Linked DNA regions of Homo sapiens: all the other regions are reported to be linked to region 1. The links are microRNA targets in miRTarBase. Many come from high-throughput screens and were not tested one by one. Region 1 holds a microRNA gene; each other region holds the end of a gene's coding sequence.
Evidence for each region. Region 1 holds the annotated microRNA hsa-miR-204-5p (UUCCCUUUGUCAUCCUAUGCCU, at 1,629-1,650, opposite strand). A microRNA usually pairs through its seed, bases 2 to 8, with sites in the 3' UTR of a target mRNA and lowers its output. Matches are read on the target gene's strand: a 7mer-m8 pairs with bases 2 to 8, a 7mer-A1 pairs with bases 2 to 7 and ends in A, and an 8mer does both.

Region 1 (4,067 bases):
AAGTCTCTTTGCTGAAAAAAGGGAGGTCTTTAGCTTGAATAGGAAAATGGGTGAGATAAACATGACAAGTCAATACCAAGAAACCAGTTTCGCTAAAATTTGCTCTGTTCCCTCAAAGTTATTTTTTTGGCTTCATTATTACCTTTATTGACAAAGTAACTTTTCATTAACAAGCATGACAAATATTTCAGTTACACAGCCAACTGTGTCAAGTCGTTTCATATAATGAAAAAGCAGGGATATAGATTGTGTTGTTTATTCCTCACAAATTATTCTTTAGAGGGAAGACCCTCTAAAAGGCGGAGAAAGCTTTAAACATGTTTACTTGACAGCACCTGAAAAATGATGTCATTACAGTCTAAAGTGAACTGATCATCAATTTGGTATTTGTGTTTTGGAAGGCCTTTCCCTTGACTGTTTGAGGCAGTAGAAAGTTTGCATGATTGGGCTGAACAGATTGTAGCACCCACAGAAGGAAATAAGATGTTCTTGATATACAGTCATGTGTTGCATAATGACACTTTGGTCAATGACAGACCACAAATACAATGGTGGTCCCATAAGGTAGTAATAGAGCTGAAAAAGTCCTATCACCTAGTGACATCTTGATGATTCTGACCCTGTGCAGGCCTAGTTTAATGAGTGTGTTTGTGTCTTCATTTTTAAGAAAAAAGTTTAAAAAATACAAAGATAAAAAATTTTAAAGACAGAAAAAAGCTCATAGAATAAGCAAATGAAGAAAATATTTTTGTATAGCTGCATAATGTGCTTATGTTTTAAGCTAAGTATTATTGCAAAATAGTCTAAAAGTTTTAAAACGTTAAAAAGTTTACAAAGTAAAAAAGTTACAGTCAGCTAAGGTTAATTTAGTTTTGAAGAAATAAAATTTAAAAAATAAATTTAGTATAGCCTAATTATACAGTGTTTATAAAGTTTACAGTAGTATACAAAAATATTCTAGCACTCACTCAGTGACTCACCCAGAGCAACTTCCAGTCCTGCAAGCACCATTCATGGTAAGTGCCCTATTAAGGTGTACTATTTGTATCTTTTATACTATGTTTTTATTGTGTCTTTTCTATGTTTAGATACACAAATACTTACCATCGTGTTACAGTTGCCTACAGTATTCACTACCACATAGTAACATGCTATACAGGTTTGTAGCCTACAAGCAATAGGCTATACTATATAGCCTAGGTGTGTAGTAGGTTATACCTTCTAGGTTTGTATAAGTACACTCTATGATGTTCATGACAAAATCACCTAATGATTCATTTCTGAGGATATAGTAACCCCATCGTTAAGCAATGCATGACAGTATATGTAACCTGTCCAGGGGAATCTTTGCTTCCTTTTCAAGTCACATGGTTTGGACCCAGAACTATTAGTCTTTGAGAGTATATTTCACTCCTTCCTAATTCCAGAGCTGCTTGGATGAAGTTCTACTATGACCTTTAACATACAGTGTTTTTCATCTCTCTTATGGGACAGTTATGGGCCCAATGATGGAAAATTTCATGTCATGGTTATCCCAATGCATTTGATGATGGTGCAATGATCAAAAAAGATGCCAGTGATGACAATTGAACGTCCCTTTGCCTTCCCAGCCTCCTTCATATATTCTCAGGCATAGGATGACAAAGGGAAGTCCACGAGTCACATGAAGAAAGACTGTAGCCATGGGTACGCGATCAGGAAGTCCTCTGCTTGCCTCCACCCCCACCCTCCTTTCCATCACCCTGTCCTATGGGTACATGATCAGGAGGTCCTCTGCTTGCCTCCACCCCCACCCTCCTCTCCATCACCCTGTCCTATGGGTACATGATCAGGAGGTCCTCTGCTTGCCTCCACCCTCACCCTCCTCTCCATCACCCTGTCCTGTGGGTAAATGATCAGGAGGCCCTCTGCTTGCCTCCAACCCCACCCTCCTCTCCATCACCCTGTCCTATGGATACACGATCAGGAGGTCCTCTTCTTGCCTCCAACCCCACCCTCCTCTCCATCGCCCTGTTCTATGGGTACATGATCAGGAGGTCCTCTGCTTGCCTCCATCCCCACGCTCCTCTCCAGCACCCTGTTGTATTTCTTCCTAATATTGTTTCTCCACCATCTTGCAACTAACCACCATCTTCTTCCCAAAGTTTTGCTTGATGACTCATTCCAACTGAATCAATGCTCAACCTATATTTGGCACAGAGTTGGTGCTCAAATAGTTGCTGAATGGAATAATGACCCTCAAACTCTCCAAGGTAACCAAACTTTAGGGGAGCCTTTTTAAAAAAATGAGATAATGCTTCCATGTGTAGGATGAAAGGAGAAAGTATTTTGGAATTATGTCAGCCTAGGTTTGCACCCAGCTGTGCCACTAATTGGATTTAAGGCAAAGGCTTAACCTCTTGGAGGTGCCATTTCATCAACTGTATAAAAGGAAGAAAATAATCCCTATCTTGAAGGGTTTTTGTGAGTATTAAAAGAGATAGTATATATGAAAATGCCTAGCATGGTGCTTGGAACCTAAATAAATGCTCATTCCCTCCTAGTAGTATCCCAATAGTGCCGTCAAGCTGTCCTATATGGTATCTTTAGGATGATAAATAATAGGGAGTAACTAATTTCTGATGTGGTTGAATGTCAGAAGAGATAGAGATAAAACAACAGTCATAGGGAGTGATACTGTTAGGAAATTATAAAGGAAATGAAGACTTCTGTGGTTAATTTCTTGGAGTTTAAGAAGAAATTCACATTTTCCATTAATTATACTTACCAACTGAGTCTAACTGGCAACTACCCCAAAATGAATAAAACAAGCGGGAGTCAAGAGAGAAAAACGGCAGGCATCCTGTCAAAAAATAAAATCTTTGAAATTTCTACACCCTGTGGTTGCATACACATTTTATTAAAGCAGATGGATTACCCAATTTACATAAATTTATATACGTGATGGCAACTCAAGTTGCACAGTGAAACCTATGTAGAGCATCATCCAGCCCTTCTGCACCAGCTATATCTTGTCTTATCACTCCTTCAACTGGACAGGTCCTTAAAAATCATAGCTCTTTGCTGGAGGAAGTATCATTCTTTATTCTCTTCCAGCCTAGATAGCTTCTGTGGTGTGGAAAGGGTCAAATGAGTTAATATCTGTTAAGTGCTTGTACTGATGCTTAGAACTTAGTAAAACCTCAAGAAATCTTAGTTGTTGTTATATTAATTATAATGATAATTATGAATCTTCCAATTCTGTGTTTTCCAGGAGACGATAGGAATTGAATTCTTTCCTTCCCTCCTTTTAATAACATTTTCCTGATTTCTAGAGAAATAAGTGTTCTAGTTTCAAGTGTTTAGCTACTTTTGACTTAAAAGAACTATCCATTTAGAGGCTAATCTACCCAGTTTCTTTTCTTTTCTTTTTAAAAGAGGAATTGAAACAAAGCTAACATGTTACTCAACATGCATAATATTATTAATTGGACTGATTCCTCTTTCTCTCTCTGGCCAAGGTATAGATATAAATATATCTACATCTATGACTATGTCTACATATCTTCCAAAAAAGTCATCAAAACCATTTCAGTATAATTGGCAGGTTTCCTACCAATTTGGTTATTGTTTCCCAAACTAGGAGATAAACTTAATGGTAATATCATATTTCTGGAGTTGCTAAGCAAGCTAGCCTTTGGTCAGATGGTCTCAGAGGAGGACCCCATGAGTATGAACAGCTCTGCTCTGCCTTCATTTTGTTCCTTCCTTAGAGACAGCATTAAGGGAAGATCCCAAATCCTCAAGTTAGATCTCTAGACCCTAGCTTCCTAGGATCAAGCTAGACTTTGAGAGCAGCCTCACTTGTGGCAAATATTGGGAAGTAGGAGTTTGGCAGCTGGTAGCTGGCTGGTGAGAGGCATGTAGGAACTCACCCACTTTTCATGAAACATCAACATCACTTGGTTATATGTCAGCACCCATACCCTGGCAAAGCTGCCTTCTCATAAGAATGTACTCACTGGGGAAAATGCAAAGCAATATCACTTGAAGCACAGCCTCTAAGGGTTGGTTCCTCTGGATTCTCA
Region 2 (4,067 bases), not on the chromosome of region 1:
CTGAATAAATAAAATAAATAGGTTGAACCACGAAAAACTGTTGACATTCAACTATTTCTGACATCCCAAAACAGCAGTTTCATACCGTTCAACCTAAGAGAAGATGTACCATAGAGATGCTTGTTAAATGATGGGCTATATAAGTAATAAAAGTTTTGTAACTAGTAGAGTATATGGACACATGCTCAGAAACCCTGATCTCTGTCATTTCTGGGCACGATATTTCAAAAGTACATTCGTTTCACTCATTCTTTTATGTGCACAATGCTACTTTCCTTTGGTCAGGGATATTTCTGAATATCTGATTTTTATCTTTTGTTTTTCAGTGACATTCATCCAGAATCCTTCAACTTGCAGTGGTTTTTCAATGACTCTTGTGCACCTCCTACTGGTTTCAATAAACCCACCAGTAACGACACCATGGCGAGTGGCTGGAGAGCATCTAGTTTCCACTTCGATTCTGAAGAAAACAAACATAGGCTTATCCACTTCTCAGTATTTTTAGGTCTATTGCTTGTTGGAATTCTGGAGGTCCTGTTTGGGCTCAGTCAGATAGTCATCGGTTTCCTTGGCTGTCTGTGTGGAGTCTCTAAGCGAAGAAGTCAAATTGTGTAGTTTAATGGGAATAAAATGTAAGTATCAGTAGTTTGAATTAATTTGAGAAGTACACTTGTTTTCAAAGTCATCTTTGAGATGATTTAAAAAATCAACCCTTCACGTAGAAAGCACGTTGTAAATGCATAACACTCTCATATCAGTGGTTGATTTGGGAAAGGTGGAGAGAATTTTCAATTAGTTTTGTGTTGTACTATTCAAATTTTTTACCTCTTCACTGTGTGTAGAGAAAGGAGAAGGGAAGGAGGATGAGAAGGAACGGAAGTCATCCTGAAAATAAAAGTACAGGACTTTTTTTTTTTTTTTTTGAGACAGGGTCTCAAAAAAGGCTGGAGTACAGTAGTACAGTGGTGCTATCTCAGCTTACTGCAGCCTCAACCTCCTGGGCTCAGGTGATTCTCCCATCTCAGCCTCCCTAGTAGCTGGGACTACAGGTGCGTGCCACTATGCCAAGCTAATTTTTGTATTTTTAGTAGAGATGGGGGTTTTCCATATTGCCCAGGCTGGTCCCGAACTCATGGACTCAAGTGATCTGCCTGCCTCAGCCTCCTAAAGTGCTGCGATTACAGGCATGAGCCATCGCGCCTAAAGGACAGGACCTTTTTATTGTATTTCTTTAAAGAATAAATACATAACCTGAATGCAATCAAGTCTTTAGATCTAATTCTCAGCTTGCAGGGAACACTAGGACAAATCCAAAAAGTGGGTCAGCGGGCACAGAATGGCCCAATTTTCAACAGGAAAATGTTATAAAAGAAAAATATTTTTGAGGGAACTGTTATAGATTAAGAGAATAGAGGCATGTTTCAGCTAAACACATGTAAACTTTGTCAGAGATAATTGGGAGGAGTATGTAGAAGAATCGGATTATTGTTAATTTTGGTAGGTCTGATAATGGTTTTATAGTATAAAGGCTGAGTACCCCTTATCCAAAATGATTAAGATCAGAAGTGTTTTGGCTTTCACATTTTTTTGGATTTTGGAATTTTGCCTATAATAATGAGACATCTTGGGGATGGGATGCAAGTCTAACCACAAAATTCATTTATGTCTCATACACACTTTGAACACCTGGCCTGAAGGTAATTTCACACAATATTTTAAATAACTTTGTGCATGAAACACAATTTTGACTGCATTTTGACTGCAACTCATCACATGAGGTCAGGTATGGAATTTTCCACTTGTGGTGTTACGTTACTGGCTCAAAAAGTTTTGGATCTCGGAGCATTCTGGATTTTGAATTTTTGGATTAGTGATGCTCAACCTGTATACAGAAATGTCCTCATTTTTAAAAAAAGAAATGCATATTTATATGTTTTAAAATTACTTCAACCAAAAGCAACGGGGAGATGTTTACTGTTATATTTAGGTGACAGGTACATGGCAATTCATTATACCCTCCTATTTTCCTATGTTTACATTATTCATTAATTAAAAAACAATACCTAGAAAAACCCAAGACTTTCAAAAGCTATTTTCTATATGTGCCAATCTTTAAAAAACAGGATAACAAGGGTATTTATCACATTAAAATGTTGTAAAACAGCAAAGCTAAAAATCTAAAATTTTCTGAATGTTATTTCTATATTTCAATTGTTTATGTTCATTGGGCTTAAGGTTCCAGAAATAATTTGCAGTACCTACATTATAGCTGCCTAAATAAATTTAGTAACATCAAGAGCTTATAAGCCTTTTTTCTGAACATTTACTATATAAAAACATTCTTCCTACACCCCTACAAATACTTACTTGTCCTTAAGGCCTAGCTTAAGTATCTCCTACTTGAGGAAGCCTTCCCAGTGCTCATGATCCAATAAACCAAGTCAGCACTTACCCAAGCCTCTATTATCATTCCTGTCATAATGTAACATACATGTGTTTGTACGTCCATCACTATAGTATTCAGGAGCACAGGAACCACGTTCATCAGCCCTCACCTCTTCAGGTCCTTAGCAACGCCTCTCATTTCCCCACCTCCAGCCCCATTCCTACCCCCACCTGCCTTATCTCTGGCAGCACTCTTTATCCTTGACTTCAGCACAAATACCACTTTTTCTGAGAGGCTATTCCTAAACGTCTAATGAAAACTAGGTTTCCCTTTACTCTTTTACCATGCTTTCATTTACAGCATTTATCACAATGATGATTGCATTTTCCTTTGTGCTTGCTTCTTAAATTTCACTGTCCCCCATTAGACTATAAGCTCCAGGGGTACAGGAACATGTTTATTCCCTCCTGGTATAAAGAGTACTTAGTACAGTGCCTGGTACAAAGCAGAAACATTGCATTTAGTTGAATGAATTAATGAATCCTATCTTCAGTACTCAGCTTTTAGCGAAGACTCGATACTTACTCAATGAACTGTCAAACTGCTAATGGTCATGTAATTAAAACAAAAATAAGACAGCTCACTGTACTCTAGTGAACAAGGGTCAGCAATGGTGCTTACAAATTTTCTCATCACCCCCCAAAATATTTATGCCATGTACTTTCCCCAAAATGTGACTTCATTAATTCAGCCAGTGACCAGAGTATCCTTACATCAATGAGTAAATATAAAAACTTTATTGGAATAGCATGTTAGCAGCAGTGAACAGGGCATGGCACAGAAGGTTTCCAAAACAAGTTTAGCATGAAGGATGCCATATGCTGTTGCCAACAACTAGAACACGGTGACTAAAGACACAGTTCTGAATGTCCAGCACAACCTCTGGCCTGCAACTATGTTCAGTGATGATGATAAACAAGGTGGTGACTTGGAAGGAATCCCTATGTCAAGTGAGAAAAAAAAATGATGTCTGACCTCCTTATATATGTAAAAAATATACCTTCAGAGTCCGTCAGTAAGCTGGAAGAAGTGGATGTTGAAGTTTTTAACATCGATGATGGGTCTCCAGTTGTTCATCAACCCATGGTGAAATAGCTGAACGGTTCTGAATCAAAGGTGATCCTAATAGTGAAGACATTAACATTGCAGAAAAAGTGCCTACAGATTATATGGTGAAAATACGTGATGGGCTTCTTGAAGGACTAGAGCAGTGTGTATTCAAAACAGAACAAGAAATCACGTCAGTTTATAAAAGCAAAGAGAGGTTTCTCAGACAAAAACATTGTTCATGAGGTAGATGACTCTGGAAGAAATACTTTAAAAAGCCACTGAGAAGAATGCCTCGTCTCCACAGGATCCACTTCCTAGCCTCTCAACTGCTTCTCATGTTTCTTCTCACTGAAAAAAATAGTGTCCAGTAATCTTTACTCCAACAGTACCGCCAGTGGGGACAGGAAACTTGCCGTGGCTGTTCTTGGTTGTGGCTGTTGTCTAACAGCTGGTGCAGTATCTGGTGATGCCCCTGTGCTGCTTAGTTACTTGAACGCAGTTTTTTCACTGTATTAATAGTGTGTCATTTTTTAATGTTAAGTATTTATGTGTGAAAAAGTGTTAAGAAAAA
Region 3 (4,067 bases), not on the chromosome of region 1:
ATTTCTCCCCTAGGAGCCTTAGTTTCCTCATCAGTAAATGGTGACAATCACAAACCCTCCTTTAGAATGCTGGAAGAATTTAATGAGCTCACATGTTAGAGTCCCCAGCATAGGGTCTGTTGGTTCCTTTGCAGGCCACACCCACAGAGAGGGCCAGCACTAAAAGCAAACTGTCCCCTTCCATTCCCACAAAGAGAGGCCTACTGTGGCCTTCTAGAGGCCCAAGGACCCCTGGTTGGCCCAGATTCTTCACCCCAGAAAGGATGCAATGTTGGAGTGCAGCTAAGATACATCCTGAAGCTATTTAGGCCATAAACACAGGTGGAGAAATTTCCTGGGCTTCTCATTACTTCCTTGCATCTTCCCCAAACAGAGCCCACATCTATGAGGTAAGAGCTCCTGTTGTAAAGACTCAGAGAGCATTAATAATATTTTCCTCTGCTCATGACAGGCTGAGCTCACCCTGTAAATGGGGTGGGGTGGGGAGACCCCCTGGGGGTGGTGGTGTTGGCTCCGGAGATTTCCTGGGTAAAGGAAAATGTTCAAATTCCTGGGCACTGGTGCCCCATCTCATCCAAGCCTTGCCACATCCTTGTCCCATGGGATCTTAGGGAAGTCATCCCCATCCATAAGCCTCAATTTCTTCCTGTGTGCACTGGCCTAAGACCTATTCACTGTCCTGCTTTAGAGAATGGTTGGGTTGTGGGAAAATAAGGGGATGAGCTGGGGGAAATCATCACTGGCCCTTGCTGGGTTACCCCAACATGGCCTGAGATTTTTTTTTTTTGCAAGTTTGTTTCTCCCTGAAGTCACACCTTAAATTCCTACCATTTAAAATGATAAAAGCCACTGTCTTTTGTATCTGCCAGCTATTTCACCCCTTCCTGAGCAGAAAAAAATCTTAGGATTTGTGTTAAATAGCTCTCCCTCCACCCTCATCCTGTCTGGATGTACCAAGATCTAAGAAAATAGCATACAGCAGGCAGATTTGCCATGCTACAGGCTCCTTGCAGGCTGGGGAAGGCCAGCTGGGGCATTGGGCTGGAGCCGAGGGAGGCCAGCAGGCCCAGTGGGGGTGGGTCCCCGGGGTCTGCTGAAATACACCTGGGGAGAGGCTCATCAAAGGAAAAGAGCAAGTTCATCGTGGGGTTCCTTTGCTTGCCTTTGCTTTGAGGCACTTCCTTTTGAACCTCTAAAGTGACAGCCCTTCCTTGATCAAGTCTGGTGTCCCTGGACTTCTGGACAGCTCCAGAGCCCATGCCAATGGAAGCAACTTTTGTCGGCTCCTTTCATGTTCCATCCTCATGGGCCTGGAGATCTGGGTTGGTGACCCTGCTCCGTGGTAAAGCAGAGACCCTGGGTTTCTCATAGAATCTGAGTCTCATGATCCATTGCATATTTAGTTCCAGCAACAAAACAATGAGCAGACAGACAAATAGATGTGATATTAAAAAGTGCACGCTTAAGGGAATGTTTTCACAGTGTCTGATGAAAGGAAAAGAGGCAGCCCCATTGGCCCAGAAGGAGTCTTGGCCAACACGAAGCTGAGTGCATCTCTCTAAAGCTCCATGGACTCCTTGTTGCCAATAGGACAAAGTCTGTACTCGCGATGGGCATCTGTCTCCTGGACCCTGGCTCATCTCTTGCTGCTCCCCGTGTTGTGCTGTGCCCGCACTGGGCTGGCCTCCCCCAGACTGCTTCTCCCAATGCCTTTTCACATTTCTTTGCCATTGCACATATGGATCCCTTTGCCTGAGTTTCCTTTTTTTCCTTTTTATGCTTGTTAAGACCCAGCAGGAATGGACGTCCCCTTCTCCAGGAAGCCCGAGGCCGAAGAGACTTTCTTGCTCCTAGGCTCATGGAACACTCATCCACTCCACACTACTGCACCATGGTTCCATTTCCCCAGCATACAGTGGGCTCTTGAGGGCCAAAGCTGTACCTTCTTGAATTCTCTGCCCCTCATGCCCTGTCTGGGGCTAGACCAGCCTTCAAGATGGAGCTTCCTAGGTCCCAGCCCACCTGAGGCTGTCAGATATTGGGCCTAAGCACTGGCTAGAGATCAAGGTCGAGAGTTTCCCTGGCTGGTCCATTCATAGCCTGAAGGAACAGGGAATTGTTTTTACTGACTAAGAAATTAGATGAGACTGGCTTTCCTGGGGAGCTGGGAATGTGTTACTAAAATATATCTGAAATTCTGCGCTTCCCAGAAGAACTGGCATCAGGAAGAAAGTACTAAATTTCCATTTGTGGAGTTATCTGCTCAGAAGTTTCTGGCCTTATTTTCCCTCCATAAAATAATTGCTTGGCTTAGAGAAGATGAAGAAAACAGCACGGAGAAGTCTCATTGCCATTACCTGCCCCTTTGGAACCCAGGATTTCATTACTAAGGAAGGTGCGTGGGTTTCCTCATTGGAGGAGATGATCAAATGGAGATGATAACAAGTCAGTAGCTCTCTCCTGGGGGTTCTAAGGACTGTGTGAAATGTCCTATGGAAAGTGCCAAGCATGATCCCTGGCATACAGTAGAGACTTAGCAAATGTTGGTTCCCTCTCATTGACTCACTCACACTTTGGACAAGACCCTAGATCTCCAGGCCTGATTCTCTTGGCCTATTTTAAATCAAAGTATAATGGGCTCCACAATGGCCTTTTTCAAGGTGGCTGCTGGGTTTCTTTAGGAAGGAGTTCAAATTTGGACATCCAAATTATGCACAAAGCTGGTGCTCTATTTGCCCCAGAAACCAAAGGGACCATCTTCAGGCTCACCCATCTCTCCTTGCTCAGTGGCATGCTGTCCCAGGGTGGGAGCTTTTAAGGACATTGCCAGGAAAAAATAAAAGGCCCGAGAGATTTGTCTTAGAGGTACATACTCAAACTCCCCCGCCCCCTTCTTTTTGACATAAGAGACTAAGATTTTACACCCTCCAAAAGAAAGTTTCTTTTCACATACACTTTGGAAAATAATCAAATCTTATCTTGTTTGTCTCTTCCAAAGAAAGCTACCACCAAAGAAACACAGGGGTTACATCCTACAGGTCAGCCCAAGCCCTGCCCCAGGGAGGTGGTCCCTTTTTACAAAGACAAGGAGGAGCAGAGAAGTTCCCTGCAGTTCCACCCCCTCCCACTGACCACACAAAAAAGCAAAGAACACCTTTATCAAAAACTGCTGTGGACACAGCTGGCCGGCCAGTGAATGCTGGACGGTCAAGGCCCAGGCTGGGGAAGGGGTACAGAATGGTTGTGGGCGAAGCCCCATGCAGGTTAGGTGTGAGGATGGGGGGCCTCTCTTGTGGCCTAGGGAACATCGTAAGGTCACACTGGTCCAGACTGCAAATGTCTGGTGCCAGAGGCCCCTGAAGGAGGTTGCAGGGGGCAGCAGAGCAGTGACCCCCAAGAGCCTCAATCTTTTCCATGACGTAGAGGAGCAGAACACACATCTCCTCCACTCCTAAGGAGAAGGAGGGCAGGGGAGCCTCCCACTCCCCAGCACCTGCACAGTTGGCTTGCCAAGAGATCCACAAACTCAGAACAAAAGCAGGTGGTCTGGGAGCCAGAAATCCAAGGCCTTGCTTGTGGGTGTACTTCTGCTTGGGCCCTTGGCTGTGGCTGGTTAGGTTGAAAAGGAAGCCTGGGCCTTTTGGAGCAGCATCTCCCACGGCAACAGGAGACCCCTCAGAAGGTGCAGAGCCCCCCGTGGAACACAGGGCCACCAGTCTTCTCCTTGGAGTCAGGCAGGGTGCCACCTCAGAGCTCCTGAGCCCAGTTACTGCCATTCACACAAAAGGGGGCTTGGTCACAGCAGCCTCTGGACTCCGGCAGGTTCCCCATCCCATTGAGCTAAAAGGAGCTTAAATATTCCAGTGCCACCTCGTATACAAATTTATACTGTTCCTGAGAGGCGGAGAGGAGCAGAGGCAGAGAGGGAGAAGAGGAGACGAGAGAGATGAAAAAGGAAAGGGAAAATGCATTTAGTTTAGAGATACAGATTTTGGAGAAAACTTTTTCTATATCCATATTATGTCAACTCAAAATTACCCATATCTGGACATCCTTCAAAATTCTGC
Region 4 (4,067 bases), not on the chromosome of region 1:
ACTTTCTGGTTCTGGGAATTTGGTGTATAGCCTTTGACCCTGAAGATTAGGTGCCAAGCTACATTTAGCATGTGACTAGATTGACCTGTGGCAGAATAACCACAGGCAACCCTAATGCCCCTCCCCTTGTGGGTTTCCCGTTTCCTATTAGCTTATTTTTTTCATTCAATGTGTTCTGAATAATATTCTACCTAAAAGTAAAATATTAATAAATATTTTTCCTCATCTTTTTTTCTCCTGCCTTTTTTTTTTTTTTTTTCAGTTATCCCCAAGCTAAACTGCGTGTTCACTGTGGAAACCGATGGCTTTATTTCCTACATTTACGGGAGCAAATTCCAGCTTCGGTCAAGTGAACGGTCTGCGAAGAAGTTCAAAGCGAAGGGAACGATTGACCTGTGAATTCTTTGCCGTCTAAGGCAGTTGTTTATGACAGCTGAAAACTGGACACTCCCTAAATGTCCACCTTTCAGTGAAGAGATAGTTAAGCCAATTCCATTTATAGACCACCTCCAGCCAGTGACGCTCCGAGTTGAGGATGTTGAACAACATGGGAAGGTCGCAGCGTACTAAGTGAAGAAGTCAGAGGACAGAGGAATTTCTCTTTCTAGGAGATTTTCATTTTGTGTGACTCCCATGGGGAGGAACAGACTGGCAGGAAGCACACCGGGGTTAACACTGGTTGACTTGAATAGGATTATTCGATTTTTAAAAATACTTTTCCATGTTTTCTGAGTGCTCTATGATAAATCAGTTGCATCTGTGATAATACAGTACATATGTGGACATAAACAGGGATCAAATAAAGGAGGTATTGCTGCAGTCCAGCCAGGTTGAAAGGGAAGGGGGGTCCCCAAAGGTCCATTGGATGGCAGGTGTCTACAGAGGCTCGCCTTTGGGTGGAACTCTGACCCACCTAAGGTTTACTTTGCTATTTCAGGAAGGTTGAAGAGGATTGAAGGGTGAGTTGCTAAGTGACTTAGGGTTTATTCACTTCAGGAATCATAGCTGGGGTGGACCCCAGGAGCAGAGTACTGCATGCAGCTGTGCCCATGCATGGTTGCCCCAGCGTAGTGAGATGGGACCTGCCGCAGCATGCCCACTCCTGAGCTGCCAGGCTGAGCCATGGAGGACTGAAAGGAGGTCGCCCGGCATCACCTCCCGAGGTGAGACCTGCTGCAAAAGCCAAGCCAGCAGCATTGACGCCCTTTGATATCTTCGCCATTTTTGCTGCTGAAAGACTTGGCTTTTCAGTCTGACCCTGGCCCTCTGTGACCATGTGTCTGTAAAGCCAGTGGGTCAGGCCCTTCCATGCAGGGCCAGAGGAAAAGCGGGCCCAGGGCTGCAGTGAGAGCGGGGCAGGGGACCAGCCTACCAGATGGGTTGGAAACATGGCTCAGAAGGACCAACTACCCCTTCCCTTTGAGGAGCAAGTCTCTGCCGATCAGCAAGGCAAGGCCAGGAGCCCTCCTGGCGAAAGGCAGGCCACAAATCTGTTCTCCCCCAGGAGAAGTAGCAGTGCCAGGGCTTTGCGTTTCTGGTAACTTCCACCCAAACCACACCAGAGAGAAACACCGTAGTGGAGAAGGGAAGTGGGAGCGCTGACTGCTGTGTGCCAGGAGAGTAGAAAGGCCCAGGTCTGTGCCACCACCCCTCCCCAAAGCTCAGTGCACCCAGAGTCTCACAGGGACCAACACGGTGCCTCGGTCCTGCTTCCATCCATGCAAGTGTCCTCCGCTCACCAGGGTGTTCTGAGGCAGCTCAAGTGCTCTCCCCCAAGCAGCACGCAGTCACCGCTGCCAGTGATGAACACACGCACGGGCTAGGCACATGGAGCCCAAGCACACTGCCACCTCGGACACGGGCCCCGGCCCAGCGACTGCCTTGTGGTGTGGCCGTCCTCATCTGCCACAGGAAGACAGACTTCGAGGGACCTCTTGCCTAAGGCCTCGCTGACTCAAGGGTAGATTGAGATTTGGACCTAATAGGCTCCAGAACTGTGCTTTGAGCTACAGGGTGGCTGCAGGATGAGACGGATGCAGTTCAAAGTGCAGGATGTGCTGCCTTTATTACCTGCTTTCCCGCTGAGCAAATCCCTGTCTTGAGTGGGAAGTGGCATCTATTCCCCCAGCCATCTGAAAATGCTGTGTTCATAACCAAATAGGTGCTGTAGCTTCCTAGCCATCCCGCTCTTACCCGCCCCTCTGCAATGTAAAAGGCGTCCACTGTTGTGTAAATACACAGTTGCTTTCCAGAAAAGTTGTAGGTACCACTTGCCATGTGAAATCTGTTTTTCATTTAGCTCAGACTCAAGTTTCTGTGTGAGTGGCGGTTTAATTTGTAGATACCTCTCCCTCTCCCCCAAGGAGACATGGTGAGGGTGCTCACCGGCCACTAAGCTGCCGCTGTGCCTGCCTGTTTCTAGGATACACTGTTGCCCTCATGGCCCACCCAGGGGTCATATCTCCCAGGTAGAGGAGGGAAAGGGGAGGGCCCAGCTGGGCGGGACATGGTTCCTGATGAGGAACAGCTGCAGAAAGCATGATCTGAGGCCCAGGGGCCGTGGCAGGGGCCAGGGCTGCCATGTCTCCACAGGCTGCGGCACAGCTTGTCATGGAGGGTAATGTGGTGCTTTTTGGCCCGATCTCTCCCATGTCCACTGTCCAAGGAGCAGGACCCTGGCAGAGCTGAGGCCTTGGCCATGTGGTCCCACGGGAGACAGAGCCACATTCGACTTGTGTAAGCCTCCATGCACCAGAGAAAGTGCCAAAGAGGAGAGAGTGGTTAGCAACTCAGGACAGGACCCAGAGGCTGCAGGACTGGGAGACATCAGCCCAGCGACCCACTGCTCAAAGAGTGGGGCCCAGGGGCCCTTTACATCTTCCCAGTGCCCAGCTGCCACACAGGGTCTGCAGAGGATAGGCCAGAGCCTCGGGGGAAAGGATGAGGTTCTTGGAGGAGAAAGGACAGCGAAAGGACAGCGTGGGCCATGGCTGATGTATCCATCTGCTCTAATCTTCATAACAAAATGCCACACACTGGGGCTGCAGCATTTTCTCACAGCTCTTGAGGCTGGAAGCCAAAGATCAAGGTGCTGGCAGGGCTGGTTTCTGGAGAGGCCTCTCCCTTCTTGTCCTCACATGGCCTTTCCTCCCTGTGTGCAAGGAAAGTGATCCCTCGGGTCTTTTCCTTGTAGAAGGACGCCAGTCCTATTGGATCAGGCCGTGTTCTTATGAACTCGTGAAAGTCTCCAGACAGTCACAGTGGGGGCAAGGGCTTTATCATATGAATTTGGAGACCCAAGTCAGTCCACAGCCACCCCGAAGCTTTCCCAGCCAGGACAGCCTGGTTGTGCCTCCCAGAAAGACTCCAACAGCTACCTGACTCCCAACCTCAGACACTAGCCAGGCCTTCTCTTTCCCCCATATGGGCTGCTTGGACCACTAGCCAGTCCAGCCAGCCCCAATGCTGGCCCCTGAGCTGCCATCACCACTGGATTCTGTGACATGCTCATACAGGAACTTGGGTCCAGGGCTGCTCCCTCCAGTACCCGGGGCCCCTGAGCTGCCCAGTTCCCCTTCACTTTTGCAAACAGCTGAACTCCTCCTCCCGCTGGGGCCAGGCACAGTCTGGATGGGGGAGGAAATGCGTGTGCAGGTGGGCAGGATGGGCAGAGAAGTCTCCCTGGAGCAGGGGCTCCGGCTCTAGGCAGCTGTGGGTGTGAAGAGTGTATTCACACCAAGGCTCAGGGCAGGAGCCCGCAGAAGCATTGTGGAGGACCCAGGAAGGCAGGGGAAGCCTGCGAGGGTCTGCCCCCTGGGCTCAGGCAGGCAGGAGGAGAGGCCGGAAGGGGTATATGGCTGCCAGGAGTGGAGAGATGGCAGAGATGCTGGAAAAGCCCTAATCCATGGGGCAGGAGGTGGAGTTCTGCTGATCCATTCACGCAGTTCTGAAGTCTTGGGGACCTTGGTGCCGCCATCTGTCAAGTGGGGCCATTAGACTAGACCCAGCGTTCCTGGAATGGCATCCTGGAACTTCCCATATCAGAGTTAGTGGGTGCACATTCAGAG
Region 5 (4,067 bases), not on the chromosome of region 1:
CAGCTCCAAGACACAGGTTCACCATAAATGGCCAGTTTTACCTCCTGGTCCCCAACATGCTTTTGAGAACAGGTGGCCCCTCTTTGGAGCTCACTGGAATGACTGAACCTCATGCCAGCCTCTCCTCACCCCCTCACTGCCCACAAGACACCCCCTTGGTCTCAGGTCCCAGGGCTGGTGACAAAGTGATCTTTGCAGTCTTAGAAAATAAACTGGGAATCTACAAAAGGAAAAGAAAGCATACAAAATGTATCTCTTTCTTCCAAAATACATGCTTTCAGTTCTACGTTTTGGTGGAGCCTGAAAGTATTTTCAAGGGAGATATAGGTTGAGTTAATTTATAGGTTTGTCCTTTTCTTTCATAAAAATACTCTTGTTTGGTAATAAACTTTTTCTTCTACAGTAAGAGAAATAATACTGTGTTATCAAAAGCAAGAAGGCTTACGACTCAAGTGGGATCTAAGCCCCTGAGGGCCCGGAGAGCTTCTGTCAACAGCTCTCCCACCCCGGACACCCAGGGAGCTGTCGGACACCAGCTCGGCAAAAGCAAACACTGCCTCAACAGTGCTTTTTATCTTCTTGTTTTATAAAATGGCTTACCTGAGAGAGGCATGTATTATTCAGTGCAAGAGGGAACATCAATCAGATTAAGGAGTAAATGGGAACTACGTGGATTAGATTTGCGGCTGTGTCATCGACCTTTCTCGGGGCCAGCAAAGTGCCAAGTGTCAACACAGTGAGGGAGTCGAGGGGCTTGGCTCAGACCCTAGCAAGGGGCAGGAGGGAGCTAAAGGTCAGCTTCGGCCCTGGCACCATGGGTGGGTCAGAGGAGGGGTGAGGAAGGTGAGCGGGCCAGGAGGCTGCAGGGGTGGAGGCGTAAGCACTGGGGTGTGCTCTGCCCCTCGCTAGTCAGGGCAGAGGATGGCTCATGGTCCTGAACGGACAGCTCCCACCTGGCCCACGGGGGCAGAAGGTGGTCTGCGGTCCAGTAGATCGGCAGGGGCGGGGCTGGCCGGAGGTGCTGGCAGGGGAGCACCCCACACAGCCCGCACCGGGCGTTGCCTACACAAGGGCTCCGAGATGGCTGGAGTGAGGGTGGGGCTAGATCTGGTCTAGAGAGGCGACTCCAAGCTCTCTTGCTGGCTCCCAGCTGTGGGAATCCTTTAGGCTTGTTCTCAACCTACACGTTAAAAATGCTTCTTGGTGTGTTTGGGGAGGGGGAGAGGGAAACTGAGCTCTCTCTTGACCTCCTCCAACACCCTTGACTTGCTTACCCAGCCATTTTCAGTAGCTACACGGGTGGTCACAGAACACTGGGCGGCACTCGGCACACAACACAGAACCGGGGCAGTCCATGCAGGTGCGGGAACACATGTCGGACCCAGGGAGCAAGGAACACGCCACCCCGAGGAACATGCAAACGGAGAAGATCCCTGCAGATCCAAGGATGCCACAACCCGACGGGCGCTGAGGAAGCACGATTATCTAAGAAAAAGCCACTGTTGAACAACAACGCGCAGCACGGCGCCTGATCTGCACCCCCCTCTGCGGGAGTGATGCATTGCAGAACGGCGGCCGGGTACCGTGCAGACACCCACGAGAACACTGACACAGAGACACTGACAGACACACACAGATGCACTAGGTTCTTGACACAACGTGGACCTGTGTTTAAGGGGACAGGTGGCCCTAGAAGGAACAGAAGACAGAAACACCTGCTCCTCCTGCAGAAATGTCTGCAGCTGCAGCTGAGCCAGGCAGTGCAGTAGAATTTCTAGAAAGACTTGTCAGCGGTTTGCTGATGAGACTCCTGGAGACAGAGTCGGGGTGCCCTCAGGGCGTGCGACCACCAGATGGTGCAAAGCAGGAAGCTCCTCCTACCCTGGGCAGGGCCTCCCGAGCCTGCTCTCTTTCTCACTTAGCGCACACACACACACAACACACACACACACACACAAATGCACATACACTTCTCTCCCCTCCTTGGAAGGACTAGAAGGAAATGTCCATGTTGCTTTTCACGGGGAACAAAAAAAGGCAAAAAGGTTCTGGACACTGCTCAGGTGTCAGTGTCGCCGGCCAGTGGCAGCTTGTGGGCTGCTGTAGGCCGTGAGCCCCATGAGATGGAGGAGTGGGTTTCAGGCCCCTGCCCTGGCCAGGCCTGGCTCCACACGTGAGGTCTCTGGAGTACCCCTGGAGGGGTCTGAACCAGCTCACCTGGCGCCTGGTGTGCTGGGAGGGATATGGCTGTCAAAGTCCCCCAAAAAGGACCTTCCCACCGATGGGCTGGGTTGAAGTCCCAGTGGCCCCATGTGGCCAGGTCTTCATCGAAACACGGCTTCTTTCCTTAAAAGGTCCCCTCTGGTCTGCACTGCCGGAGGCCAAAGGAGAGGGGTGCTGGGGCCCGGCTTCCCGGGCTGTGGGTGGCACGCTCCTCTCTCAGGGCCCTCTGGGCTGAAGCAGTGCAGCACAGCTCCAGAGGTGAGAAGGGAGGGGCAGACCCCAGCCTTGCAGGATCTGAGGAGGTGGGAAGGTCGAGGGCAGGGCCGTCCTGGGGCAGAGCTAGCTGAGCTGGGCACACAGGCCGACCTCCCAGGCCCCATGCTGCTCTCAGATGCAAACAGCAGGGATGGATGCTGTCTGGCCCTGGGGTAAGGGCCAGTGTCCTCAGCCATCCCCTCTCCTCCACGGGAGAGCACAGGGTACCATCCCAGGACGGCCTGCCTTCACCCTTCAGAGACAGTTCACTTCTATTACAAAATAAAAATTCTCTGTAGAGAGCCCCCGCCCCCGGCCTTTGACAAACCACTAAAAGACATTTATTACATCAATATAAAGATATGTCGCTCTGAGAAAGGTTTGCAAACAAAGACAAATGCGTGTACTGAGGTTGCACCAACCCCAAAGCACGCACGCAGCTAACAAAGTTGGCAAATATGAATTTTCATCATGAGATTTTTCCAAAGCCAGAAGAAAGAAGGAAATGAGGTACGTCCTCAAAGAAAAGGCCTCCCCCAGCCACGCACGCACACACGTAGACACACACATGTAGACACGCACACACAGATCCTCTCACCAACTTCTGCCTTGTTCAAGACGTTGCAGCACCCACTTCAGCTGTGAATGGGGCATGCCTGAGAGAGTCCGGGCTCCTACAGAGAAGTGGGGCTTCCTCAGGGACAGATGGGAGCAGGGGCTGCTTCGTGTGCATGAGGACAAAACCAGGCTGTGTGCGTGTGCGTGTGCAGGGGCGACGGCCTCGGTTCATTCCTGGGGAAAAGGGAGAGAAGAGACGCACAAAACAGATCATCGCCGCACAAGCAGGGGGCGAGGGCGGGCGGGCTCAGCCTGGCCTGCCGTGCTCAGTTGATCTGGCGACAGGCCTCGAAGGTCCACTTGGTGGCCCCTCCGTAGATCTCGATGTGGGATTCAGCCCAGGCGATGACATTGCCGGACAGAGCCTTGGTGCTGCAGGTGGCCAGGTTGTACACCTCCCCGGGGGTCAGCTTGCGGTCCCAGATGTTGAAGTGGGCCAGCTCACCCACAAATGCCTGGGTGGCATCAAACCCACCACCCAGAGTGTCCTTCAGAGAAAAACAGAGGATGAGAGTGGAGGGGTCGCCAGGTGGTCTGGGGGCCCATCCCTAGGCCGGGGATCTGAGTGCCTCTGTGCCTGCCCGATCACGGACTCTCACGGACACTCCTAGGTGCCGTTTCGTCTCCCTGTCCCTGACTCTCCAGCCCTACATCCATCCCTCCTCTGGGGGAGCCCAAGAAAAGGGATGGCACCGACCACCTCTGCCCTGGAGCTTCTCCTGGGGGGACCTGGACTCTGCCCCTCCTGCAGCTGGTCCCTCAGCCATGGACAACCACAGCAGCTGGGCCTGGGGCCCCTGCCCAGACATCACTCCATGCCAGCTAAAGCTGCCCAACAGGGACAGACGTCCCCGATTCTCCATCCCTTCGTCTTCCTCCCAGGTGCCCAACAGGAGACAAACCACTTCACGGGAACTAGATTATGCATCACTAAAAGCAGAACTGGCCTTCCCATGCCAAAGAAAGTGTTG
Region 6 (4,067 bases), not on the chromosome of region 1:
CCCGCTGCCACAGCCCCCAGGGGACCGCTTGGCCATCTCGCTGAAGGCTGGAACACCCCCATTTCAGGGTTAGTCGTTGGACTGAGCTACAATGTAGTGAGGTTGGATTAAATATTCGTTTAGAGTAGATTCAAGTCTATTAGATGCTGGAGGGCTGGTGTAAGGGCTCCGGTTGACATTTCCAAGTTCAAGGAGCATGGCCTGGAGGAGGCGTGGCTCAGATGGCAAAGCTCCCGAGCGGCGAGGCCAGGCTTTGCCCCACTTCTTCTTCCCTCCTGGGGCCCTGCTGATTGAGAGCCCTCCCACCAAGCCAAGACGCTGGTGGACCACAGAGGGGCTGGTTAGTCAAATAAGCTGCTTCTTCCCCTTGCCCACTCCCTGTCCCTCTACAAAATTAATAAAACCGTAATAACAAGATAAGAAGAAGAAGGTGCAAGAGAATGGATTACAATGCTGTTTGTTATCCTCAGTGGAAGAGGCACAAAGGGGTCACCATTCCCTTTTTCACTATGTATCGAATTATAGCTTCCCTTAAAAAAGGCAATACTTTCCAAAATACACATATGTATAAATACAGGACAAGAACATATTAATAAGTCTAAACACTTGAATAATATGCTGTCTACTTAATACTGATATTTTCATCCAGGGAAAACAACACAGAAAAACAACAATATGGCTTAAAGAATTGCAAAGATTTTTTTTCCTCATCAGAATTATGTACCAACTTCATATAATATTCTATGTAGACAATATTTCCTTCTGAATGTAGTTCAGTTGCATATTTTTACAGACCAAAGCATAGTAAAAAACAAACAAAAACCAACCAAAAACCCAATAACGGGAAACAGAAAAGTTCTCACCATAAATATTTTCTTGCAGCTCAACCAGAAGGTTGGCAAAATACTTCCAGAAATCTTTGTTTGATATTCTCTTGCCCTCCTGAAAGTTCTGAAATTTTGAAAATGCCTCTCTTTTTGTTTGTTTTAATCTCAAAAATCAAACAATTATATTTTTCTTTTCTTTTTTTTTTTTTAAAAAAAGGCCCTCAAATATATACAGACAAAAAATTACTGTGAAGATTTTTTCGGGAAAAGCTACCAAATTCAGTGTTGTGAGAAAAACTGGTAACCATGCAGAAATTTTAACATCTATGAATTTTTTTTCCAAAATACACACATATTTTTTTAAAAAAGGAATTCTGTGTCAAGTATAACTCAAAATAAATACAAATTCACAAGTAGAACTATTGAATACTTCATATGGGGTAAACACCATTATCTCCCAACTAGATCGCTAGATCTACCAACTGCAAGCGATTGTCCCTTTTGAACGTACTAAAACCACACACTTTCCCATCCCCTGGGCTCCTGGCCCTCTGAGCACTTAATTCTCAATGGCACCTGGCCTGCATGGCAGGGGCTTTGCTGACCACAAGAGAGTTCCCCAGTTCAGCCAGAGCCGAGTCAAGGGGAGTATGGAAGGTGGGCCTCAAAGCGGGAACCCCAGCCCCCAAGGTGGCTGGCTCTGCACAGATGGCAGGGCAGTGGCTACCTGCTGAACAGCTCACTGGCAAGGTCACTTTGGGGTGATATCCCAACTCCCCTTAGCCCGTGCAGGGAAGCCCTGGCCTCCAGTGGTCTGGGGCCTGGGTTAGTTTTAGGGTGTGGGCCCCCCACCTTTGCAGCACAGCTGGCAGGCCCCAGGCATCCTTGGGCCAAGGTCCCCCATGGCCGGGTCCCTGGAAGGGTTGGCACAGGCACGCCGCCCACCACTGCGAACATTCTCTTTAGCAGTGCGGTAGGATGACTGTCAGTGGCAGCTTCTCCTTGGGACAGAAGCCTGGGCCGGGGCCAACCCCAGCTCACCTCAACACCTTGGAGAAGACGGGGAACAACGTGCTCGGGGAGTCCTCAGTGGCAGTCCCCAGTGGTGGCAAGGGTGTCCACAGCCTGCTGCCTGGCCTGGAGCAAATACCTTTTTTAAGTGCTCAGAGGGTATGGCCCCTCAAATCCACCCTGCAGCTCCCTGGCTGCAAATACACTCACTCCATCTTTTCAACTCGCTCCCTGGACCCCTGGTTAACACTTCACTGTAACTCCTCAGTTGTACAAAGCATTTTCATTTGAATACAAAAGGCAACTGGACACCAGATGGGCATCCTTGAGCCATGGTAAACACTGAATTTCAGGCTCATTTCTTGGTCTGATTTTTTTTTTTTCCCACAGAGGCATAATGTAGGGGCAAAATCAAGAGACCCAGTTCTGACAGCCGGGAGAAAGGAAGGGTCAAGACCATGGAAACGGGGCTTCTCATCCGGGAGACAGAGGAGCGCACGATCCCGCCGCCAGCCAGGACAGTGGGCTCCCTGGCCACGGACGTGCCACGAGGCCTCTCTGCTCCCTTGGGAGGTAGGAAATTATTGTCTCCATTTTAGAAAAGAGGGGTTCTGTGGCTTGTCTCAGGGTTCTCCATGTCAGGGGCTAGGAGACCGAGGTGAGAAGGAGGGGGCTCCTCCATGTTTGCAGGGGTGGGGGATGAAAAGCAGGGCTGGGGCTGCAGGGGCCAGCAGGGGAGGACTCAGCATCCCTCAGCTTGACTTCCTAAGACACCAAGTGAAGGGTCACGATGCGGGGTACCTGGCACCTGGGAGGTTTCTCCCACCATTCTGGGTGAAACTCCCCAAATAAAGCTCCAGGACACAGCACCGGCCAGCCTGAATCCCAGAACAACAGAGCTGAAATGGGCCCTCTGCTCTCTAGTGTTATGCTGTCATTTAACTAATGGGGAAACTGAGGCCTGGAGATGCGAAGTCCTTGCCCAAGGTGACACAATGCGTCGGCAGCAGGGCAAAGACTTGAGCCGAGGTCTCCAGAACACCAGGCTTGTGTCCTTTCTGCTGGAACAGACACGCTGGGCTTCCACACTGGGCCCAGCTATCTTGATGTGGACCCCCAGAGTGGGTGGGAGGCAGAGGGGAAGGAAAGGGAGTGGGGCTGACAAAACCTAAGGCAGTCTGGTGGGGGTCGTGGGAGGGGCTGCCCCACGTTCACCAGGACGCATCTCTCCAGCATTCTGTGCCTCCCCCATGCCTAACCCCTCCTATCTGGGTCCATAGCGTGGGGAGGGGGGCACACCCAGGTGCAATGCCAGTGATGTCAGAGGGGGTCTGGATTTGGGGCTTAAGGTGGGCAAGGGACAGAGAGGTCCACTCCCCAGCCGCTGTTGGAACACATGTCCCCTTGCCACGATTGCTGACTCAGGAAAGAGGGATTTCTGAGAGTGGCTTTCCATACAGGGCAAACCGGAAGGTTCTGGGTGGGGGCAGGCGGCCTGGCTGGTCTGGGGAGGTTTGGGATTCACAGTCAATTTAGTGCACCTGTGGCCAATACAAGGCTGCTCACCCCAAAGAGGCTCTCAGAGGCGAGCCTGTGGGGACACCCAGGGCTCCTGGACATGGGCTTTTGCTTGCCTTTGTCCCCTCCACTGAGACCCCAGGCCCGCCTGCAAAAAGCCCCAGACTCCCTGCTTTCCCTGGCCTGTGGGGGGCAGCAATGTCAGTAACACTGTTTGTCAACACACACAAGACAAGGACGCTAAGAGCCCCCGGCCCAGCCCCGCAGGCCTGCGAGGGCACCCCATGCACAGGGCGACACGCAGCCCCTCGGAGTAGCACAGGGAAGCAGCGTCTCCTCGGGCTGGCGGGGGGTGGCTCTGGGTGCGGGCGGGCAGCCCGTCACTGCACGCGACGGCAGTAGTAGCCCAGGACCTTGCACTTCTCGCAGAGGTGCTGCGGGTGCTCCTTGCTCTGGTCGGACACGTCCAGGCCGTCGGGCTTCTCCAGGGGTCTCTGCAGAGAGAAGGAGGAAGGGGCCCAGGGGAGTGAGGGGAGAGAAAGACAGAAACACAGAGACAGACAGGGAGAGACACACAGAGACAGACAGGTGAGACAGGTACACAGGGAGGGGACCAGACAGAGAGGCACACCTCTGCAGAGACAGAGACTGACAGACACAGTGAGGGAGAGACACACACCCGATGAGGGGTGGGGAGAGGGCGCCTGTGGT
Region 7 (4,067 bases), not on the chromosome of region 1:
CACAGATGTGAATTGTTTGGATGATAGCTTTCCTCCACTGGGCAACACACCCCGTGGACAAGTTAATCATGTGCCTGTTGTAACAGAAGAGTTACTCACCCTGCCCAGCAATGGGGAAAGTGATTGTTTTAATTTATTTGAGACTGGATTTTATCACTCGGAGCTAAACCCTATGAACATGTGCAGTGAAGAGTCAGAGAGACCAGCAAAAAGATTGAAAATGGGCATTGCCGTCCCTGAATCCTTTATGAATGAAGTTTCTGTAAATAACCTGGGTGTGGACTTTGAAAATCACACACATCACATCACCAGTGCCAAAATGGCTGTTTCTGTGGCTGACTTTGGCAGTCTCTCTGCCAACGAGACCAATGGTTTCATCAGTGCCCATGCTCTGCATCAGCACGCGGCCCTACACTCTGAGTGACCTGAGTGAGGATCCCGGAACTGCGTGTGCAGCACCAGTAAACTTGAGGGGAGCTATCAGGTTTGCATAGTCTTTCACTGGAAGTTTGAACCTTTCTCACTATGACATCAGTGATGTCAGTATGTATAGAACTATATCTTGATTTATCAAGAGTATTTTCATTTTTCAATCCATAAATGTGGAAATGAACTATGATCAGCAGAGTTGGGAACTAAGATTGAACTCTGTGGTGCAGCTTTAAGCTCTGCTTCTCTCTTCCTCATCTCCCAATACCTCTTCCCCACTCCCTTCTTTTTCTATTCTTTTGTGTTCCCCACTGCCCTCACTCCCAATTTTAAAACCTGTAGACAGAGGCCACCAGCTCAAAACCAGCACAGATGTTCTGAACTGAATGGTGTGGCCTGTTTTTGTGTAAATTCCTTTTGCCGTAATGGATGCAGTGGAATAACAATGTTTACAGGTACCGATCCCGATCCCTGCTCAATGTAGCATTTTTTTGGTTTTATTTTCTTAATAAAAGCAGGGGTAGGTTTCTTTAAACTGCACAAACATGCAAGGATTTTTTAAAAATGGAAACTTCTCTCATGTTATTCAACTAGAGCACTTCAGTTTACAAAACAGCAAGTCCATCTTTATGGAAGCCAGCACAAGGAACTGTGTGCAAATAATGAAGACGCTTGCTTGGATCCTGTTTCAAAATTCTAGACCAGGGCTACCTTACACAGAATTGGTCATGTTACTGCCAGGAGATTTCTGTGTAACTTCATTTATTGGCTACAGTTTTGGCATTTGAAGATGTGGTACTCAGATGGGGTTTTGTCCACCATTGTCAAGATTGTAATCTTAAAAATCATACCAGTCATTGATAATTTAGTTTATCCTGAGGCAGTCGACTTGCAGAGGCACAGTCTACAAAGCCTAGGATGTTGCCACTCAATGGTTTACATTTTGGGACATCTTTTAAGTTGTTTGTAGCACTGCAGTTCAAAGTGTTAATATTTAGAGGGACTTCTAGATTTTATACCTAATGCAGTAGAACCTTGAAGTATATTTAAGCTTTTTTGTTAAGCTTGAACAGTTGGCAAGAATAATGTGAGTTCCTATCTGAAATAGAATGGTACATTACCACTTTTAAGTTTTAAAAATTGATAGATGTTCAGATGTATCTCAAACTCAGTTTTATTTTTATTCCAAATATTGTGAATGAGAAGCCATTGTCCTAAACTTTGGCCATTTTTGTGCTATAAACATGCATTTTTAAGTTATAAGGTGAATCAAACAATATGTAATACAGTATTAGGATGTAATCTTTGCTTTTGTAGTACTGTTAAAATAGAGAATTATGTTGTTTGCACCGTCTTAATTAAAATTCTTGATTTTTACTAGTTGCTTTGCAAAAAACAAATGTTTGGCTGCATTGCTAATATTTGTAAGTATAAGTTGCTTCAAGGTTGTGCTGATGAGTAGATAGGATGTAGTGATCTTAGTAGTGATTGAAAGGGAGGGTATTTATTATACAAACTGTGAACTGCAATGACATCCTTAGTTTTGGATGATGTGTATTCTTGTTTTTCTTTGCAGCATTTTAATGAAGATTGCTTTGAAGTGTTTACGCAGTAGCACATTAGTATAAAATTTAGTTTAGCACAGTGGACAAAAAGTAGTTAAATTAATAACTTAAAATCAGTCTCTAATTTATACATCTGAAGTATAGCATTCCTGTATGCACACAGTAAATAATGGGTAGCCTGGGCTCTGTGTTACTTTCTTGTATTTTTATCCAAGTTGTCAGCTTCTTATTGCTGTGTTGTTGTGCTAAACTTTGAACCTTATTTCTTTTATTAAAAATCAGTACACTTTCTATAATTTAGTAAGATACTGGCCATAATCTTCCATTGTTATAACCTTAATTTTCACTCTGGGTTTACAGTGGCTGGTCTGTATAAATAATTTACACAAAGATGACTGAATGCTAATACCAGTTGCACTTAAATGAACATGCCCATTCTCAGTAGCTGATGCAGTAATATATTCAGTTTATCTATGCATTGCTGGGGTCTTGATATAAGATGGAAACAGTGTTTCTTATCTAAAGTTTTGATTATCAGCAAGTTGAATGGACACTTTAGTTATTTAAATAAAGATTTTTGACCAAAATCCAGAAAATGGTATGAGAGAAAAATAAATTCCAGCTAGTTTAATAGATTTTTAAATGTCAATCTGATTTTAGCCTCTTAGAGAGTGCTAACTAGCTGGTAATGTTTACTTTTAATTCCTTGTTAAAATGAGGCAATAATTTGCAAGATTTTTGTATATAAGTGTAAATTCTTCATATCTTTTTAGATCTAATTCAATATTTTCTGACTACTTCTGCCATGTATAATACCATTTTTGTGCATGCTTGATGTGACATTCATAAATTGTACCACTATGACTTTATCCATGTAAAATAGCTATTTATTGAATTTTCTTTTAAAAGCTGGATTTACTGGGTTTTTTTTTTCTCTCAGTTTAAACATCTTAACAGAGAATTTGTTACTGTTTATTAAAAGAATTGCATTTGGAAGCAAGAAAACAACCGGATTTGCAATCATGTGAAGAAACAATAATGCCTTTATTATCAAGTGTTAAGCACAATTCTTATAACAAACTGTGATAAATTCTTTTTGTTTTTTTTTCCTTTGCCCCATTATTTTCTTATGAACAAACCAAAAATTCATGGTGAGCAGTTGCAGTGTTGGCTGATATATCTTTTATGTACAGGGAATTTGAAAAGGACAGTGGATTCATTTAGAAGTGTAACTGGTGCTGTGATTATAGCAATACATTTGTTAGTTGTACTTCATCTTTTTCATGCTAGCTTTTTAAATGTTTAGTTTTCCTCTTGTCATGGTCAGCTGCTGAATTTACTTGAAGGATGTAGAATACTGTTTAAAAAATACTAAAATTTGTACAATTAGATCAAAGAATTGTGCAATCATTTCCTTTTTAATTTTTAAAATGTTGAGGCTCATAAATATTTGAGAACATCAGATCTAATAGAGCATAGTGATACTATTTAATTTAACCAAAGTCTCTAGTGAATATTTCAACTTTGAATGTAAACTAACAAATAAACCTGACCACCAAGGAGATTGTTTGCCCAGAGTTTCAAAGCACATTGTCTACAAATGGAAATTGAAATAATTTATAAAATATTGACGTTACTATGTTTTTTAAAAAGTTCCTAATTTTTTCACTAAATGGAGGAAACTATTAGTTTTATTGTTAAATATGGTAGATATTAATATTCCTCTTAGATGACCAGTGATTCCAATTGTCCCAGTTTGAAATAAGTACCCTGTGAGTATGAGATAAATTAGTGACAATCAGAACAAGTTTCAGTATCAGATGTTCAAGAGGAAGTTGCTATTGCATTGATTTTAATATTTGTACATAAACACTGATTTTTTTGAGCATTATTTTGTATTTGTTGTACTTTAATACCTGGTGTACAGTTCCAGAAATAAAAATCTGGGAATCTTTTTTTCTTGGTTTGTGTGAATATTTGCCAAAAATACAGATATTTTATTTAATGAATCTTAAGCTACAGCAAATAGATAGATATTATACCACTGTTAAATTGGTTTTAGATGCAGTAAAT

Region 2: the mRNA of TM4SF20 is a reported target of hsa-miR-204-5p. Seed matches in the 3' UTR shown: 7mer-A1 at 852-858.
Region 3: miRTarBase lists PTPRT as a target of hsa-miR-204-5p. Seed matches in the 3' UTR shown: 7mer-m8 at 3,069-3,075 and 7mer-m8 at 1,744-1,750.
Region 4: miRTarBase lists POP4 as a target of hsa-miR-204-5p. Seed matches in the 3' UTR shown: 8mer at 834-841 and 7mer-A1 at 1,583-1,589.
Region 5: miRTarBase lists NPTX1 as a target of hsa-miR-204-5p. The part of its 3' UTR that is shown has no 7-base or 8-base seed match.
Region 6: the mRNA of ZCCHC24 is a reported target of hsa-miR-204-5p. Seed matches in the 3' UTR shown: 7mer-m8 at 1,323-1,329, 7mer-A1 at 527-533 and 8mer at 496-503.
Region 7: the mRNA of MIER3 is a reported target of hsa-miR-204-5p. Seed matches in the 3' UTR shown: 7mer-m8 at 1,921-1,927.

The regions. Positions count from the first base shown.
Region 1 is chr9:70,808,403-70,812,469 of GRCh38, forward strand. It overlaps MIR204 (microRNA 204), which reads right to left and starts at 1,682; the gene lies at 1,573-1,682. All of the region lies in intron 6 of TRPM3 (transient receptor potential cation channel subfamily M member 3), which reads right to left.
Region 2 is chr2:227,360,272-227,364,338 of GRCh38, reverse strand. TM4SF20 (transmembrane 4 L six family member 20) reads left to right here. Exons shown (of 4, transcript NM_024795.4): 4 at 327-2,301. The coding sequence ends at 615. Among named protein-coding and RNA genes, the nearest start is that of TM4SF20, 17 kb to the left of the region's middle.
Region 3 is chr20:42,077,039-42,081,105 of GRCh38, forward strand. It overlaps PTPRT (protein tyrosine phosphatase receptor type T), which reads right to left. Exons shown (of 31, transcript NM_007050.6): 31 at 1-3,894. The coding sequence ends at 3,841. All of the region lies in intron 2 of LOC101927182 (a long non-coding RNA gene), which reads left to right. Among named protein-coding and RNA genes, the nearest start is that of CHD6, 460 kb to the left of the region's middle.
Region 4 is chr19:29,614,982-29,619,048 of GRCh38, forward strand. POP4 (POP4 ribonuclease P/MRP subunit) reads left to right here. Exons shown (of 7, transcript NM_006627.3): 7 at 263-2,256. The coding sequence ends at 399. Among named protein-coding and RNA genes, the nearest start is that of POP4, 11 kb to the left of the region's middle.
Region 5 is chr17:80,467,451-80,471,517 of GRCh38, forward strand. It overlaps NPTX1 (neuronal pentraxin 1), which reads right to left. Exons shown (of 5, transcript NM_002522.4): 5 at 1-3,584. The coding sequence ends at 3,363. Among named protein-coding and RNA genes, the nearest start is that of NPTX1, 7.1 kb to the right of the region's middle. RefSeq lists an enhancer at 475-1,199.
Region 6 is chr10:79,382,609-79,386,675 of GRCh38, forward strand. ZCCHC24 (zinc finger CCHC-type containing 24) reads right to left here. Exons shown (of 4, transcript NM_153367.4): 4 at 1-3,850. The coding sequence ends at 3,737. Among named protein-coding and RNA genes, the nearest start is that of PPIF, 37 kb to the left of the region's middle. RefSeq lists an enhancer at 3,455-4,067.
Region 7 is chr5:56,919,485-56,923,551 of GRCh38, reverse strand. It overlaps MIER3 (MIER family member 3), which reads left to right. Exons shown (of 13, transcript NM_001297599.2): 13 at 1-3,949. The coding sequence ends at 424. It also overlaps a transcript of SETD9 not described here. Among named protein-coding and RNA genes, the nearest start is that of SETD9, 12 kb to the right of the region's middle.